2 linked regions of the Homo sapiens genome follow. The protein of the gene in region 1 purifies or fractionates together with the protein of each later gene. This does not show direct contact. Each region holds a gene or a part of one and is shown on either strand. Other genes may lie near its edges. The genes, in order: NOPCHAP1 and SMARCAD1.

Region 1 (3,500 bases):
GATAGACTTACCAGCCTTTGTGTGTCTGAGAAAGTATTTTGCTTTCAGTTTTTGGAAGATGCTTTAATGGATTTAGAATTCTAGGTTGACAGTGTGGTTTTTTGCTTTTTCTGTTTTCTCCAGTACTTTAAAGACATCACTACACTTTCTTTTCAGTGGCATTGTTTCTGACGCCAGTGTCTACTGTCATTTTGTGTCATGAATATGGTGTTTCTTTTCTTCTCTGGCTGCCTTTAAGATTCCCTTCATTACTGGTTTTTACCGATTTTATGGTGATGTGCCCTTTGTAGTTTTCTTTGTGAGTCTTGAGCTTGGGTTTGTTGAACTTACTGGATCTATGGGTTTATAATTTTTATCAAATTTGGGAAATTTTTAGGGATGTTGTTGTTGCTTGCTCCTGTCTCGCCTCTCCTGAAGGGACTCCAATGACACCTAATTTTGCCAGTTGAGGTTGTCTCACAGCTCATTGATTGTTTGTTTGGGTCTTATGTTTTGTGTGTTTCAATTTGGATAGCTTCTATCGCTGATTTCGTTGAGTTCACTATTCTTCTATATTGTCTAATCTGTTAATTCTATCAAATGTATTTTTTCAAGGTAGATACAGTTTCCATCTCTAGAAGTTTGAGACTGTTTACATCTTTTTTTCTTTCCTTGTGTTTGTGCTTTTCTTTTCTTCCTTGAACATACAAAGTATATTTCTAAGAGCTGTTTTAACATTCTTATTGCTGATTCTGTCGTCTGCATCATTTCTGAATCTTTTTTCCCTACTCTTTATGGATTATGTTTTCCTGTTTATTTGCATGTTTGCTAATTTTTTATTAGATGTTGGACATTTTGAATATTATGGTGTTGTGTGTTGAGTATTATTTAATTTAGAAGAACCACGACTGGACTAGCCTCAGGGTTCAGCATATACTCTCCTAGAGTACCACGGAATTATTTGGCTTCTGAGGATCACAGTTCAGGCCGCACATTTTGGTACTTGTTTTGCTCTACTTGATTCATTAGTTGGAAACAAAAGCAGTACCAGATTTTCTATCTGTAGCAATATATTTAAATCTGAGGACAGAGAAATACCTTTATTTGTATTAGTAATTTCTCTTTCTGTAATCTGAAGGGGAATGAGAGCTAACATTCACTATTACGTCGGGCTTTATTTGTGTGCATGCTCTTAGGGAGTCCTTCCAGCACCTTATTTTACAAATAGAGGTCGTCTACTTGACCTTGGCCACTATTTTCTTTTCTTCTTCCATACGCTGGACATTTTAGTCATCTGTTATGTAGCCATAGCAGTTACATAAGTTTTGAGAGTCTGTTATATGCGTGGTTATGTGCTGGGCCTCTTTTGAGAGAGAAAATAAATATCCTTGTTTGTTGACTGCTCTGTATTTGGCACAGTGACTGACAGTTATCACTCCTCTTTTATGGATTAGTACGCTGAGGTTTCAAGAGGTAGAATTAAATGTATTAATTAGGATTCTTGGTTGCAAATGACTAAAATCCAGCTCAGATTGCCTTAAGCAAAAAAAGAAATTATGTTGGCTCTTTTTATTGGGGGAAAAATACTCCAGGCACAGTAGATTTCAGGTGCATCTGGATCCAGGTGCTCAGTGTCCTCAGAGGTCAGCCACTCTGTCTCTTAGTTCTGCTTTCCTGGGTATTGGCCTAATCTAGAGCGTACTCTTCCCCCAGGTGTGGAGAGTTGCCAGTTTATCAGCAGCTTCAGCCTTATATTCAGCCAACTCAGTCATTCACTCAGAAAGATTTCTCTCTCAACAGTTCCAACAAAAGGTCCTGAGTGATCTATTATTGGCCCGACTAGAGCAGCGTGTCACTGTGATGCCACTAAAGCATGGTACAGTGGCCAAGGATATGGAGGATGTAGGCATGTATGGGGTGAGGGGCAAGAGTGACTAAGAGTGACACAAGCTTAAAAGGAAAGCCAGGGTTATATTATCAGAAGAAAGGGAACGTATGTTGGGTAGGCAGAAATAACCACTACTTAATTAACTGGCCCAAGGTAATTCAGATAGAGGTAGAACTAGGATTCTGTACATACCTAGTTATTCGTACCCTAAAGCCTCAGAACCTGGTGCTCTTAACTGTTAAGTCACACTGCCTCCCTATTTAGTTACTATTTGTTGAATGCCAGCCTTCTAGGAGTTTACAGTCCTGGGGATATATGAGAAACATAAAACATTTGTGAAACAATTGCTGGATTGTGTAGTCCTACTGTTTTATTCAGAAGAGGATGGAGGGTTTTTAAATGAAGGGAACTAAAAGATATGTAATTATGGTTGTTATTATTAATACTCAATTCAGAAGTGTTTATAGGAAATCCTGGGTTTCAGAATTTACTAGCATAAATGTTGATATGCTGTATTTACTTTCCACAGTATTGGACCAGGTACAGACATTTCTCCCACAGATGGCACGGGCAAATGAAAAGCTAAGAAAAGAAATGGCAGCTGCACCACCTGGTCGTTTCAATATTGAAAACATTGATGGGCCTCATAGTAAAGTTATACAAATGGTAACTATGCTTTGTTTTCATATGGTGAAATTACTGGTCTGCCTGTCACCTAAGAAGAAGAGAACTTTTCCATTTTATTTTCAAGTTTTCATTTTCCTGGTGTTAGCTCATGTTTCCAATGTTGTATAGGTACATAGTCATTTTATGATTTAGTCATTTTAGTCATATGATGTCACAGGAAGGTTTTTTTTCCTAAGTCAAATGCTACATTTGTTATTCTGAAGCATTAATTTACTCGATGTCCTAACTGGGTTTTTTTCTGTCCAAGCCCCAAAAGAGGTAATCATAGCCTGATTTATTGAGTATGCAAAAATAAATGATGTGTGGAAGAGAGCAATTGATTACATAAGCTATGTGCAAAAATGTTCTCTCAGTTTATACTCATATCTTGTTTCTGCAGTGGAATTCCGTTTATAATATCTGTGTCTGGACCAAGCTGAGACAATTGTTAATAATATCTAATTCATTAGCCATTCTATTCAGCTCTCCCTCCAGAATAGATCCCAAATCCAACCACTTTGTACAACCTCTGCAGTTCCTTTGGACCTTTGTTGGCCCAGGTAATTATGGCCTCTCCTTTGGAGTATTGCAGCAATTTCTTAGCAGGTTTTCCTGCGTTCACTGTGCCTTCCCTGGGGTCCGTTGTTCACACAGTTTGGGACCTGGGGGCTTCCCATCACGTTTCAAATAAACTAAGTCCTTCAAAGGGTCCATATGATCCTGCCTGCAGTTCTCTATCTCAGAGGTTCCCAACCCCCAGGCTGTGGACTGGTACTGGTCTGTGGCCTGTTAGGAAGCAGGTCGCACAGCAGGAGGTGAGCGGTGGGTGAGAGCGCATTACCACCTGAGTTCTGCCTCCTGTCAGATCAGCAGTGGCATTAGATTCCAAAAGGAGCGTGAACCCTATTATGAACTGTGCATGTAAGGGATCCAGGTTGTTGTGCGCTCTTTATGAGATTCTAATGCC
Region 2 (4,032 bases), on another chromosome or scaffold:
CCCTGATGGGAATGAGATAAGATGAATGGTAAGATTTTTATGCGCGGTGGCTGAAGCCTGTAATCCCAGCACTTTGGGATGCAAAGGTGGGCAAATCACCTGAGATCACAAGACCAGCCTGGCCAACATAGTGAAACCCCGTCTCTACTAAAAATACAAAAATTAGCCAGGCATGGTGGAGCGTGCCTGTAATCCCTGCTGCTCAGGAGGCTGAGGCACAAGAATTGCTTGAACCTGGGAGGCAGAGGTTGCAGTGAGCCTAGATCACACCACTGCACTCCAGCCTGGGGGACAGAGACTGTATCTCAAAAAAAAAAAAAAAAAAAAAGGTAAATGTCTTTAAGAATTCAAATAAGAATCGAAGGTCTGGCTGGGCACAGTGGATCACCCCTGTAATCCCAGCACTTTGGGAGGCTGAGGCGGGCTGATCAGCTGAGGTTGGAAGTTCAAGACCAGCCTGACCAACATGGAGAAACCCCGTTTCTACTAAAAATATAAAATTAGCTGGGCATGGTGGTACATGCCTGTAATCCCAGCTACTCGGGAGGCTGAAGCAGGAGAATCACTTGAACCCTGGAGGTGGAGGTTGCAGTGAGCCGAGATTGTGCCATTGCACTCCAGCCTGGGCAACAAGAGCAAAACTCCATGTCAAAATAAATAAATAAATAAGAATAAAAATCAAAGGTCCTGCCCCCAAGTGCTAATTTAGCCTGGGGTCTAGGGATTGCTGAGGAAGTGGGGATTCAGAATTGAGTGTTGGATCTCTGGAGAGGACAAGATACTGAAGTTAGATTTTAAGGTCAGGACTGGAGATGAAAATTGGTGAATTATAAATAGGATGTGACTATTGACCTTACTTCTTTATCATGTGGTAACTTTTCATACTCCCATTGTGGGATAATGCTGCGTTAGTTTATTTACAGTAAAGTGTCAGGTCAAACTAAGTCAGCTTACAGGACAGAAATTGTATGTAGTCAAAATTACCTGTAATCACTCTTTTTGACTAATCCTGTTATTTTATCTAGTGAGTTGACTTCATTTCCTATGACCCTCCTTCAGTTACTGTGCCACCACCACATTGTTTCTTGAATCTTTCAAGCAAGGTCCCATCTTTGCTTCTTCCAATTTGCTTTTTTGCCTGGAAGACTCTTCCTGCTGATATTTGCATATGACTCAGATGCTTTGTTTCATTAAATCTCAGTAAAATGTCACCTTTTTAAGAAGACCTTCCTTGATCACCCTGTGAAATAGCCACCCACCCCAGCCCACCCTACCCCAGCTTTACTGTTATTTTTCTTCATAGTATTTATCACTAGCTAACCTTTCATTATGTAGTTGTGTATCACTAGCTAACATTACATTATATAGTTGTGACTCCCTTGTTAGAACATATGATTCATGAGAGCAGGACCTTATCTGTTGTGTTCACCTATTTATCTCCATTGTTCAGGGCAACGACTGGCTTGTCGTAGGCCCTCAATAAGTGCATTGAAGTAAATATTATTGCATGATGAGTGGGCATTATTAGTACTTTATACATTTTTTAAAATTTATTTATTATTTATTTGTTTTTAGACAATCTCACTGTGTGGCCCAGGCTAGAGTGCAGTGGCAGAATCTTGGCTCACTGCAACCTCTACCTCCTGGGTTCAAGTGATTCTCATACCTCAGCCTCCCGAGGAGCTGCGACTACAGGCTCATGCCACCATGCCCGGCTAATTTTTGTATTTTCTGTAGAGACGGCATTTCGCTATGTTGACCAGGCTAGTGTCAAACTCCTGACGTCAAGTGATCCACGTGCCTTGGCCTCTGAAAGTGCTAGGATTATAGGCATGAGCCACCACGCCCAGCCCTATACATATTTATTTATTATTATTTTTTTGAGATGGAGTCTTGCTCTGTTACCTAGGCTGGAGTGCAGTGGCACAATCTCGGCTCACTGCAACCTCTGCCTCCTGGGTTCAAGCAATTCTCCTGCCTCAGCCTCCCAAGTAGCTGAGACTACAGGTGCACACCACCACAGCCGGCTAATTTTTGTATTTTTAGTAGAGACAGGGTTTCACCATGTTAGCCAGGCTAGTCTCAAACTCCTGACTTCAGGCTATCTGCCTGCCTTGGCCTCCCAAAGTGCTGGGATTACAGACATGAGCCACCACACCTTTATTTTAAAATAGGACCTTAAAATAGTCCCTTTAGCCATCAGGTGTTCTTTGGCCATGGTTGCTTGAAGCTTCTTTTGGTACAGGACATCCTCCCTAATGCCCCTCTAAATCCCAGCCAGCCTTTGGATTTGAGGGCATACACTTAACCTCTGCCCCCTGATTTATTTTACTCTTCTCGGTGCCCAAAGTTGTCAATGATTGTTATTTACACATTATTTCTCCTTTTTTTCTTTGACTTTTGGGAGTACAGTGAGTTTGGAGGGATTGAAATAATGGCAGGTGAAAGGGAAGAGAGATCCTACTATATTTTATGAATAAAGAATAAAAATGAGTGAAGCCTGATCCTCCAAGAGCACCAGGAGAAAATGGTATGTAAATATATAGTTAAAATAGTATGGTGTGATAAAACCATATAATAGGGCAAAATACTAAGCAAAGTAGAATCACTATCTGTAATTCACAAATGATTGAATTATCCATTCTTCAGGGGAGGATCACAAAAAGTCACAGAGATATGACCTTTGGAGTGGACTCTAAACAATGAAATCATTGTTTACTGGGTGAACAAATGATGAGAGAGTTGAAAATATATGTTGCCTCCAAGAGTCTAATATGTGTGTGGAGGGTTGGGGGCAGATTATAGAACAGGAGGTTTTAGACAATATAGATGAAACTGAAAAGATAGAAGTGTAAACCATTGGGTTGTGAGGGGCCTTTATATCCTGTGTCAGGGACGGTAGATCTTATTTGGTACACATCATAGAGCATTTCATTATGGAAATGCTATTAGTGAAGCTGTTGTATTCATTGAAGCCTCAATGTAGGGAAATGACTGTAGAGATGACAGAGGAGGCAACTGAGGGGAGTTGTAAATGATACGCATTTGATGATATTAGGTGATCAGTTGAATGTGGAGGATTTACAGATAACTCAAATGTTCCTTGCTTGGACAGCTGGAGGATTGACACCATGGACTGAATTAAGAGGTGAGTTTAGGAGAAAGATACTAAAAATTATGTTGTGTTTGCATTACCCATCCTATTTTAGTACCAAGGTAGTAGATGGTTGAATATTAGAGCTCAGAGAGTGGTCTAAACCCTAGAACTTGGGACTCATCAATGTCCTAAGCAGGGTGTACAATAAAAAACATCATTTGACAATGGGCAGGAAAACCAATGAAAAATTTGAAGGATGACTAGAATAGTCATAGAAAATGATAGTGTCCTGGATACCTAAATACCTAGTTTGGTATTTAGTTGTCTAGTAACAAATCCTGTAGAGAAGTCAAGTTGAGTGGGGACTGATCAGTGACCAGTTTCCTTGGAATTAAAAGTAACTACTAACCTTTAACAGTTTCAGTAGAATGGTGATGAGATAGAGATTATTCATTCAGGAAAGGAAAGAGAGAAATAGGTAACCTGATTGGGAAGTAATGTCAAGAAAATATGTTTCAGGATTATTGAAAATTGAGCGTTCTTTTGTTTTTTTTTTTTTTTTTGAGACAGTTTCACTCTGTCACCCAGGCTGGAGTGCAGTGGCGCAATCTCAACTCACTGCAATCTCTGCTCTCGGGTTCATGCCATTCTTCTGCTTCAGCCTCCTGAGTAGCTGGGACTACAGGTGCCCGCCACCACGCCGGGCTAATTTTTTTTTTTTGTATTTTTAGTAGAGACCCGGTTTCACCGTATTAGCCAGGATGGTCTCAATCTCCTGACTTGAGATCTGCCCGCCTCGGCCTCCTAAAGTGCTGGGATTACAGGCATGAGCCACCGCACCTGGCCAAGCGTTTGTTAACCAAGGACAAGAAGCTAGTGGAGAGGGAAGGACTGAGGGAGGGAGGTATCTGAAGAGAGGCATCAAGTGATGAGAA

Evidence for each region.
Region 2: the proteins of NOPCHAP1 (region 1) and SMARCAD1 fractionate together in Homo sapiens (co-fractionation; one large-scale study listed by BioGRID). This does not show direct contact.

Annotation. Positions count from the first base shown.
Region 1 is NC_000012.12:104,989,316-104,992,815, forward strand, and holds part of NOPCHAP1 (NOP protein chaperone 1), read left to right. Parts: intron 1-2,396; coding exon 2,397-2,533; intron 2,534-3,500. UniProt on the Homo sapiens protein: Client-loading PAQosome/R2TP complex cofactor that selects NOP58 to promote box C/D small nucleolar ribonucleoprotein (snoRNP) assembly. Acts as a bridge between NOP58 and the R2TP complex via RUVBL1:RUVBL2.
Region 2 is NC_000004.12:94,210,623-94,214,654, forward strand, and holds part of SMARCAD1 (SWI/SNF-related matrix-associated actin-dependent regulator of chromatin subfamily A containing DEAD/H box 1), read left to right. Parts: intron 1-2,412; exon of another isoform or gene 2,413-2,530; intron 2,531-3,115; exon of another isoform or gene 3,116-3,148; intron 3,149-4,032. UniProt on the Homo sapiens protein: DNA helicase that possesses intrinsic ATP-dependent nucleosome-remodeling activity and is both required for DNA repair and heterochromatin organization.